Regions from separate parts of the Homo sapiens genome. Here region 1 is linked to region 2. The links come from fine-mapping of genetic effects on gene expression. A gene starts in region 2. The other region holds a variant in brackets. All regions are shown on one strand. Distances are between the middles of the regions. Region 1 overlaps TRDN (triadin). Region 2 holds the start of TRDN (triadin).

Region 1 (5,394 bases), 170 kb after region 2:
GTATCTTTCTTTGTATAGGACTTTATGGTTGCCTTGGGGTTGAGAAGCCCCTGGAAGGAAGAAAAGAAACGCAAAGTACAGTGGTGACATTTAGCAACACACAAATGGAAGGTATAAGGATGTCTGTTTGAAGTAAAAACATCCTGTGCCTGCCCACCTCACACAAACTCCTGAACTTCTTCAGATTATTCCCAGTTGGAGAGGTCTTTGTTTAATAGGCAAATTTGAACATCTCTGATTATTATATGAGTGGCAATTCAATTATTTTTAATAGATGGGGTTGGGAAAGGGAGGAGTGGTTAGCACCCCATATCTCTAGGGTCTCCTCTTTCCATCCCTAAGTGGTCCAAAAGTACAAGACAGAAGCAAGTGATAGTAAGGAAGCATGAAGGTCAAGGTGTCCCTATTAACACACAACCTTAGCACAATCACATGTCTCAGCCTAAAATATAAAACCATCTTTTCATTTAATTTTAGTATTTGTTAAATTCCAAACTTTCAAAATATTCCACATCTTACAAAAGTAGTCTAGGAAACTTATACCAATACATAAGTAATATTATTGCTTTAATAAACTTGACTATCATTTCCTTATTAAACTCACATCTTCTCACTTTACTTTTAGTCATAGATTTACAAATGCCTTCTATGAACCTGAAAGAACAAATTGACACAGGGATTTGTAATGATTTCATATATTGTGTGTTTTTAATGTAAAGGAATTTTAACTCAATGGTTACTTGGAGGTCCTCATACCTTTCCAGTCCCAGGATTTATTGCCATTCATTGTTTGCAGGATTGGGGTCCTTCCAAAATGTTCAGAGTTCTCTGGATGTAACTCTCCGTACTTCCAGGAAAATCCAATGAGGGTCTATGACATAAAATCTCTATTAGATGGTAGAGAAAAAAACAGCCTTAACATTTGTTACAAGACAGAGGGAGTAGGCTTCAGTTGTTCAGAAATGGTTTTCAATCAGGGAATCTCGTTCATAAAGAAACTAGATAGATTAAACTTCAGTGTAGTGAATTGCTTTTTTCCATCATGCAATCATAATTCAGCTCATAGCCTCCTACCTTGACAAGATTTTTAGTAATCTCATTCATCATTTCTAGGAAAGTAAAGAAAACATCAGTAACTTAGATCATTAGAATGAATGCACACTGTACACTAGCCCCAAAAGAATTTGACTAAATCAAAAACAACCAAATTGACTTGTATGGAAAAGAACTCAGAACAATAAAGTATTAGCAATTTGCCAACCTACCATTCAGGTATTATGGAAATAAGCCAGCCCAAATCACTCAAGGAACAGAAATGAAGCCAACTTACTGTGTTTGAATGTCAGAGGGATTTTCAGGTAATAGCTTGTAAAATGAAGGGCACCTTTAGAGTTCGAATGTAAATTTCAACAGCCTAAATCTTTCCTTCAGAGAATAACAATCTTCAGGAATTCCAAAAGAATATATTCCTAATAAAATTATAAGCCTCTTTTCTACAAATGAGTTCTGCTATTTCTGTCATGTTCAATTTTCTTTGTTTTTGTTTTTCTTCAAAAGTCAGCTTCAAATCTTCTTGTGAAATTAGATGGGATTTAAATTGTAAATACATTATCGGGAAAAGAATTAATATTTTGAGTATCTGCCATGCACTGGGTGCTTCATCACTTAATCTCTATAACACCCCTACAACTATCCACATTTTATAAACACCTTAACTGAAGCTTGGAGATGTTATGAGATTTTCAAATGTACACAGCTTCTAAGTGACAGATCTGAAGCTATCGCTTAATACCCATGTGACTCCTAAGCATGCAGTCTTTATACTAAACAACTCTGATTTTGTTGTAGAGCTGTATTATAAATATAATATCACATTTAATATAATTCATTATGTATTATTATATATGTTATATAATGTATTCATTCACCTAACAAAACGATTTGTGATTTCAATAAGATTCTCTGACATTACTGATTATATGAGTCAGGACCAAAGTCGTGTGTCATGTTCAAGTATGACCCATCTGATTTGTTTTGGTGCACCCTATCACAACAAAAACTTGTCCTGAGTTAGTAATTCCCTGCCAGGGCTAGTATCACTGTCACCATGGAGACAGGCAGCCAGCTGGCTTCTCCTTTCTTTTTTTAATTTTTTTTTGCTTGTGGTCCTACTTTCCCATTGTTACCCATTGTGTCCACTGCCTTACAACCATGCCATCAGCCATGTTAGAGAGCAGAATAAAAAGAGCATTATAGTTGTGCAGAATTTCTGATATCAACTGCATATTGCACTTTATGCCGCAGAAGCACCAGTTTGTGTGTTCTAATAAATATATATATATTGGCATCCAGGCTTTTTTTTTTTTTTAATTTACCACATACCTTCCACCTGGAATCCCTCCGTCTTCCCCATCCTTCCTTACCTGGCAGGCTCCTTTTAGGCTGTTAACCTACTCTCTTTCAAGACTCTTTCTGCAGTATATCCTT[A/T]GTATATACGATTTTCCTTCAACACACTATCATGTAATGATCTGTCTAGAGGTCTGTTTCAGCCAGTATGTTGGGAACTTCTTGAAGGCAGGGTTGGGGTTTAATAATTCTTTGGTGCTGGTATATAATAAGTATGCAATAAAGTTGTTTTAAATAAAGTAATAACTTTATATTTCCTTCAGATAAATCTAAATATAGGTAATAGTGTAAATTATGTGAAATTTACAGGGAAATAATTTTATATATAGTATAATAAGTTCCTCAATAACTCAAGACTATAAAAGACTATAATTATACACCCACTACTATTCACCGAGGTATATGACAGGGTAGAAAGCAGCTGAGACTCAACAGGCACCATTCTATGAAGATATCGATCTATCTTAGTATTTAGAAACAATTGATGTATATTTATGGACACTCATATTTTAAAAGTTTGGTCATTTAACTGACTCCTTCTTTGTCCTTGTAGCTTATTTTCAAAGCTACAAAATACCACCGTACCTTAAAATTATTTTTTCAAGAATGGCCCTCAAACAAGGTTGGGGAATAGATCTTTCCAAGTATATATCCCTTTGACCCACCGAGAAAGTAGAAACCTAGAGTAGAGGCTTCACTCCTCTGTCCCTCGTCAGCTATAGTCATGGACTCCTGATAGATGACCCTTCTGTTAAGCATAGGCAATCTGAGAGGAACTTTAAGAATTGCAACTTGGGAACCTGCATTGAAATCCAATTCCACTTATTAGCAGCTGAGAAGCCTAAACTCTGGTTAACCTCAGTTTTAAAAACTATAAAATGAGACTAATATGCACATCCCAAAGAGCTTGTGAAGATTAAATGACTTAATGCAGGAAAACCATTTGGATCATTCTTGGCACATAGTAAACACTATGTAATTGTTAGCTAGGGAAAGAAAGATAATGTGGATCAACCTTCTTTTTAGTGTTCCCAGCCTTATTTTTTCTTTGCTAATGAAAAAATAAACTTCCATGTTATATTATGTTTAAGTCAATCTTTACTTCCATAATGAAAGAAATTAACAATATTATGAATGGATATTTTTCTAGACATACGGCCTGTAAGTTATGAAACAGTATGTTTGGCTTCTATACATACTTAAACATGCTCAGTAATCAACCTGTATGGGTGTAACAGCTACAAGAACCATATATGATGAACAGAGCTCCATGTGGCATGAGGGCCTAGGCCCGAAATGTGGTGTTTGTGCAACTCTAATTACTTTGCTTGCTAAACCATATTACACCATAGATAACTAATTTTGGTGAATTCTAAAAAAGGAAAACTTTCAGTAAGGCAGGTCTGCTGACATTTGATAATATCTAGTTGTCAGTGAGATTTTAGAAGTTACACATGCCCATGTTGCATGTTGATTTCTGGATAAAAAACACACAGCAGAAGTTTATGGAATGAAAAGTAGTGATAAAATGTTTTGCAAGCAATTTATATGGGATCATATGATAGCTAATGTTGAGAGTTCATGGCCTGGATGGTATTGGTTAATTAAAGAAATCACTTGGGATAAAGAAGTACTTGGAAATGATTGTGGGTTTTCTTTCTTTCTCTCTCTCTCTCTTTTTTTTTTTTTTTTTTTTTTGCAGTTCATAATAAGCTCAGACAGAGACTTGAGAGAAGCTTTCAAAGTTCTATAAAACTGAATATATTTTCTCTTTGGCTCATTATTTACTTAACTACAGGTCATTTATTATGGTAGGGAAAAATGTATCTGTTCAATATCAAAGGCCTATGAATTTCAACCTTCTTTTATTGCCTATATTATATCATTTGAGAATTTTTAGTTAAATGGAAAAAATAGTGATTAATTTTATATTAAGATTCCCCCTCAGCTTCTGAGATTTTAGTTTCCATAACTTAGTGTGTATATTAAAAATAAATTGCTTAATTTGAGTACATGTACATTTTCCATTAATGAAGTCCAGTAGATATATTTAACATTGCATATCCATCTATGGAAAATAATATATTCAGAAATGGCTCTGAAGATAACTGAATCCGCGAAGGTGTCTTCTTAAAGATCTCCCTTAATAATAGCTTTCTTTTTTGCATAATAATATGATTTATACTTGGCTTGGTATTATGAATTATGCATGTAGGGGACAGATCTAGCTTTTTAGTTGTGGATATTAGATTTGTTAATACTTTTTTTTTTCCAATTCCTACTTCTACATTGTGTAGGACAAAGCCCAGCCATTCCACCTCCCTTACCGACAGAACAAGCTTCCAGACCCACTCCGGCATCACCTGCCCTTGAAGGCAAGTACTTTTTTTTTTCTTAAAGATCTCTATTGTAGATAAAATAGAATGTAGAGGAACAGCAACAACAAAAATAGTCACAAAGAAACAGCAAAATCCAATATTTTCTTAAATACTTTTAGTATGTCTAAACTATACTTTTCCTAAAATTGCAATTTGCTTCTTTTAGAAAACCAAAAATGTCCCCTTAAGATTCTATATTGGTGACCCTCAGCTTCCAGAAGGATGCCCACTCTAGCACTTTGGGAATCAAGCAAAAAAATATAGGGACAAATAGATAAGGCTATGCCTTGCAACTCTGGGAGTTTTACCACAACTTGATCAATTTAGTCTCTGAAGAGGCTGGTGCCAGATTTGCTGGGTTTGAATCTGAGCTCCACCTTTTCCTAGCTTTGTAAATTTGGAAAGTTATTTAAATTAACTCTTCATGAGTTTTGCCATCTCTAAGATGATATAAGCAGAGCACTGATCTCCTAGCGTTATTGTGAGGATTGAAATATATATATACACACACACTCACACACACACAAATACTGTTTTATGTATATGTATAGTTTATAAGTACTATATACAACTGGTGGTTAATACTACTAATAATTCTTGAAAATATGAT
Region 2 (5,394 bases):
TATTTAGAATAACTAGTGAATATTACAAGGGGTAATGATCAGTATAATCAGGTTGGAGATGCCCCTTGACCTAAATGCGACATTAATAGGAGAACAAATTTTCACAGTTTATCATTTACTTATATAGACTAGCTCAGTTATTAATGTCCTAATTTTATAAATATCCCTGTATGCAAAACTATGACAAGTCTACCTGTGCTGATTGTGCAGAAGTGGGATGTGAGAGTTATTCCAGGAGCTATTGCTGAGAAGAGAGAAATATCACTTTTGGGTCCTTTTGAAAGAGCTCAATGAACTGGTAACATCTCTTTAAAAATGAAGACCCTTTAAAAATAAAGAAGGGCAAATGAATCGTTTGTAATGTTTTATTCTTTGAGTTCCCTGAAGAGTAGGTGTACACACTTGTAAGAATGTCAGTTGCTTGGTTTCAGAAAGCTTGGCAGGGTTCCATTTGGAATTCAAAGACATACCTCATGAATGGAGTTTCAGATAAATTGAAAGAGTCCTAATAACTTTTCAAAATGAGAACCATGCCAATTTCTCACTGCCTAATGACATTCATCAACTCATCTCACAGAAAGGTTTGAAAAAGCTATTATCTTCAAAACATGTTTATTGTCTAGAATATGTTTTCTTTTATTTTTCCTTCCAGTATGTTTAACATGAAAATAGTGATTGGGAACTTAAGACTAACATCAATACTAGGAATTTAGTATTTCTTTTCTAGAGTCTTATTTTAACTTTTTATTGAGTAAAACTAGTTTGAAAAGTTGAGTTTTTTCCTGTTCCAGAGCCTAATTTTATTTAGGATCTGACCCATGAAAATTCTTAATGAGTTACATAAGATGTCATTCCTTCAGTTAACTACAATGAAAGATTATGAAAGTAACTGATGAATGGAGATATGAAGTGCTACGTTTTTCAAAACAATTGGAACTGCTGTGGCACTATTGACTGGAGATTCTTTGTGGGGGGCAATGTAAGGAGGGCTTTTCTCTTAGGATACCTCCTTAGACCAACCCAGAGCTCTGGGAAGCTGCTCTTGAGGATTTTGTATCTTTTCATCCCGCTAGTGGGCCTAATTTGCAGTGACCCCCTTTACCTTAAGTCATAGTATCTGCAACAAGGCCTCATTTCTTGGGGAAGATAGCAAACTTGTAGTTAAAAGGCTCTAGGCCCAGTCCTAGATATAGGAATTGAATAAAATCATGAATGTAATCATGTAATCATTTCCTCCTTGTAAATTAAGATTTGTTACTAATTTATGTATTCAGCTGGTAAATGAGCAACTTTCTATTGTGTCAGGAATGGGGGCAGTAGATTAAGACAGAACCACTAACAGGGAGGAGGTCATTGCCTATGGAAATAGCTGTTGCAGCACTCTTCTGAGCCTGAATTTTAAAAATAACAAACATGGCTTTGCTTCATGATCTATGAAGTACCATAGGAATTCGGGAGGTCTGAAAACGAAAAGTATCAAGTTCAAGCTAAAAGATTAAACTACAAGCATTTATTAGGTTGAATATGAGAATAAAATAAAAGTGTAGTCAACCCTTGATTATTCACAGATTGGCTAGAGTTTATGATTATCAATGCCCTTCGATTCTCCTTTTGCTTCCAACTACCAACTATTGAATATTTTTTTGCTCATTAACACCTGTCTAGGAGTGGGAAGGTGAAATGCTAATCAGCCAATTTGGTTAATTGTTAGTGGCTGCTATAATCCTTTTTTTTTTAAGTTGAGATAAGGAAATACTTTACTTAAATATTGGCTGTGGACTACTAAACTTTATGTCACCTTCCCTTCCTTTTTACTGCATGGATAAATGCAGGTATTTAGTTCTTAGTAAGGTAGTAGAGAGAATTAAAAAGATAGTAATTCATCAATCCAATGTTTTTCAAGTATCACACTATAAATTCACATTACATAATTCTTATTGGCCAGTGTTCAGAAAATATTAATCTTCTACAATATGACTACTTTAAAAGAAAGCTTCAAGATTTAATAGTTGCAATTTTAAGTGTAGCCCTATATAAATAACTGCACTTGCTAAGTGGATTTGTATCAACAGGAACATAACTTCTAGAAAATTACTCAAGACTACCCTCCCTTTTGCCTGTGATAGACATTTGGGACCCTCCCCAAACCAAATAAGGGAAAGAAGAATGTTCTGAGCATTAAGAGCACTAAGAATAAATCTGAGCTCTCACGGATAAGATTACTTTCAACTCTTTATTTCATGTTTTCTGACATAGACCCCAGGATCTGTAATTATCTTAGAGAAACTGCGGGGGCTTAGATGGTACTTTGTAGTTCATTTGGTTTTTTTTGTTTGTTTGTTTGTTTTTTGCCTTTCTCTCTTTGGGGCTGAAGAGCTGGTGTGTCTGTGTGTGTGTTCCTCTAGAGTGCCAAAAAAGAAAAAAAAAAGTGCTGAAGAGTCCTAGGGAGATGAGGCTATTTTTGTTTGAAGCTGATACTTCTAGCTGAGCCACAAGTGCTGCTTGGAAAGGGCTTAGGTTGTTTCCAGGGGGAGAACTCTGCAGAGGAGAGGCAAAGTTCAACAGGACAACAAAGAAGCAGCAGAAACAGCCAGGAAAACGAAGAGCCCCCAGGTTTTGACACAGAACCCTCCACCAGAGTTCTCAAATCCCCAAATACTCTGCAAAGTGCAACTTGACGGGAACTTTTCAACTGACTTTTACTTTTGACGACCACCATGACTGAGATCACTGCTGAAGGTATTGCTACCATTTTCCGATAGTATCAAGTAAGGAAAAAAAATATGCAAATCGACAGCCACATTAACTGTCGATGTGTCCATTTAAAATGTTGCTTTAAGGTAATTGCCTTGGTCAATGATTCTATACAGGATCTGAGAAGTGGATTTAGGAGCTGAGAGGCTGCCAGATCTGTATATTGGGGGAGCAAAAAGAGATTTCTCTTAAATTTTGCATGTGGAAACTGTTCTCTGCTATACCAAAGGCCCCACTAGTTAACAGTTGTTACTCACACCTCTATAAATAGCTATGGTCATGTAACATGATGGCCGATATCTTATCCAGCAAAAATTACAAAGTTTTCAAGGATGGAGACCATGATGAACTTAAAATATTACACTAATGCTTACTTAAAATATTACACTAATGCTTACTTAAACTTAAAAAGTAATTTGAAGCATTTCTGCTTTATGATATTTTTAAATGGAGACCTTAAATTTGTTTTTCCTTTCCTACTAGGGTATGTAAAACACACATACATATATATGATTTATATACAATTTAAGACATAAGTGTTCCCATAAAATTTGTATTTATTTGACCATTAATGGAAATTCAGAGATAAAGACTGGAATTCCACAAACTTACTGTGAATCAGTATGATTTTTAAAATAAAGCAATTAAGTGTTAGAATTCTGGTTCTTTTTGTAAATTCATTCTTCATTTTCCTCTAAATGGTAAATTCTATCTTTATGTTACAATAAATATTTTCTGTTTCAATGCTTTACTGAAAGCTACATACTATAATACATATCTTCTATTTGATGGTTGCTAGTTATATATATTTATATTTCATATATACTTCATATATATATGTACGTATTTCTTAGAATGAAGGAAACCTTCAAAACTAAATTACTTTGAATACAGACACAGTCTGGTTCTAGTTGAGGTAAAACTTTTGGAGGTGGATCTAAAATTTGCTTCTGACAGCTGTAAGAAAATCAGACAGGTGGTGCTCTTAACAACTTCCAAGTTAAATGCTGTGCTGGTTTGCTTTGAATAATACAACTGAAAAATAGAATATTTGTTTTTATTTTTGAGGGTAGAAATTAGTATGGACACACAGTAATTTCTGTTGGAGATTTTTAGTCAATATTTATAAGAAGTGCCTTATTTGTACCTTGCACTGAGAAATTCAGTCTGACACCTCGTATTAATAACAATTACTGAGAGATTTCTATGTGTTAGGTATTTTGCTCAGAACGTTATGTGTGTTTACTTATTTAAAACTGACACAATTCAATTAAGTAGGCATTATTATCTCAGTTTGGCAGAAAAAGGAACTGTAACTAAAATGTTATGTGACTTGCTCAAGACCAGCATTACCAACATTTAAACCCAGCCCCTTTAAATCTTGTTTGTGTGTGTGTGTGTGTGTGTGTGTGTGTTTTCTTTTCTGTGAGAGGATATCAGGTTTACTCTTTACCAATTTTAGTTCAGAATTTGCTAACTAAATATAAATAGCATTTTTCCTATTCCTTAGATATTCTGTGTCATGTTGCTTTTAGTTTGCCTTAAAGAAAGCTATGTATAAAAACTTCTTGTTTAGCTCTGCACAAGTTATTAAGATAGCTACGAGCGTCTTAATCTTCTGTTTCTCTACCTCTGTTCAGGGTTTGGGCTCCCAGGTGATTCAGGAGGTCAGTTGACTAAACCATCTTGGGCTTGCTTGTGGATTATGTTTTGTAGAACTTGCATTTGATTCAAAAGACTTTTTACAGGAAAATTCTTGATTATGAAATAGAGCTTTTGTTTCTGCCTTTGCTCTGCGGGGGTTTAAAAGGGCCTTGGAAGACCTTCTGGAGTTACCCATAAAAATAATTACATTAGTAATAAAATTAAAAAGTAGAAATACCATCTAATTCTTGGGTGATGGTCATTTTCCACTTCCGGGCCTTAACAGTTCATAGGATCTATGTTATCTGAACATCAATTATGCATTTTTTTTTGTTTTCTGGAATGATTTATTAATAATATTTCTCAAATGAAAATTAGACTGCCAACTCAAATGAACTCATCTTTTAAGGAAGCACAGTCATTCTTTGATGATATCCAAAGTTTTTTCACACTTTGTTACTACACAGTTTCATGTTATCTTTGCAATTCTCACCTTTTGTGCCCTAGCTACAATTGTCTTCCTCCAGTCTTTTATAAAAGGTATACCTTTGTACAGTGCCTTGGTACAGGCTATTTTCTGAGCCTGAAATAGTCTTATTTTATCTCATCTGCTATATTTTTTTCAACCATTTATTTATTTATTTTATTTTTTTTAGAGCAGAATTTTTCTCTGTCACCCATATTGGAATGCAGTGGCATGATCATAGCTCACTGCAGTCTCAAACTCCTGGGTTCCAGCAATCTTTCTACCTCAGCATCAGAAGTAGTTAGGACTACAGGTGTGCACCACCATGCCTGGCTAATTTTTTTTTTATTATTATTTTTGTAAAGACACGACCTCCTTATGTTGACCAGGCTGTACTTAACTACTGGCCTCAAGCCAAGATTCTCTTGCCTCTGCCTCCCAAAACATTGGGAATACAGGCAAGAACCATCACGCCTGGGGCTTGCAATCACTTTTGGACACATTACTGAAATGTAAGCACTCTATCAGTA

Evidence for each region. PIP is the estimated chance that this variant, and not a neighbour inherited with it, causes the effect. A credible set is the group of variants that fine-mapping cannot tell apart.
Region 1: its variant is the best candidate, but not a certain one, in a credible set for the expression of TRDN in cerebellum (GTEx, PIP 0.59).

What each region holds. Positions count from the first base shown.
Region 1 is chr6:123,464,293-123,469,686 of GRCh38, reverse strand. It overlaps TRDN (triadin), which reads left to right. Exons shown (of 41, transcript NM_006073.4): 10 at 4,704-4,781. TRDN-AS1 (TRDN antisense RNA 1) reads right to left here. Exons shown (of 3, transcript NR_110844.1): 2 at 757-871; 3 at 1-50. Among named protein-coding and RNA genes, the nearest start is that of TRDN-AS1, 27 kb to the right of the region's middle. The variant A/T (reference allele first, on the strand shown) is at 2,488.
Region 2 is chr6:123,634,099-123,639,492 of GRCh38, reverse strand. TRDN (triadin) reads left to right here and starts at 2,543. Exons shown (of 41, transcript NM_006073.4): 1 at 2,543-2,739. The coding sequence starts at 2,718. All of the region lies in intron 1 of LOC105377981 (a long non-coding RNA gene), which reads right to left.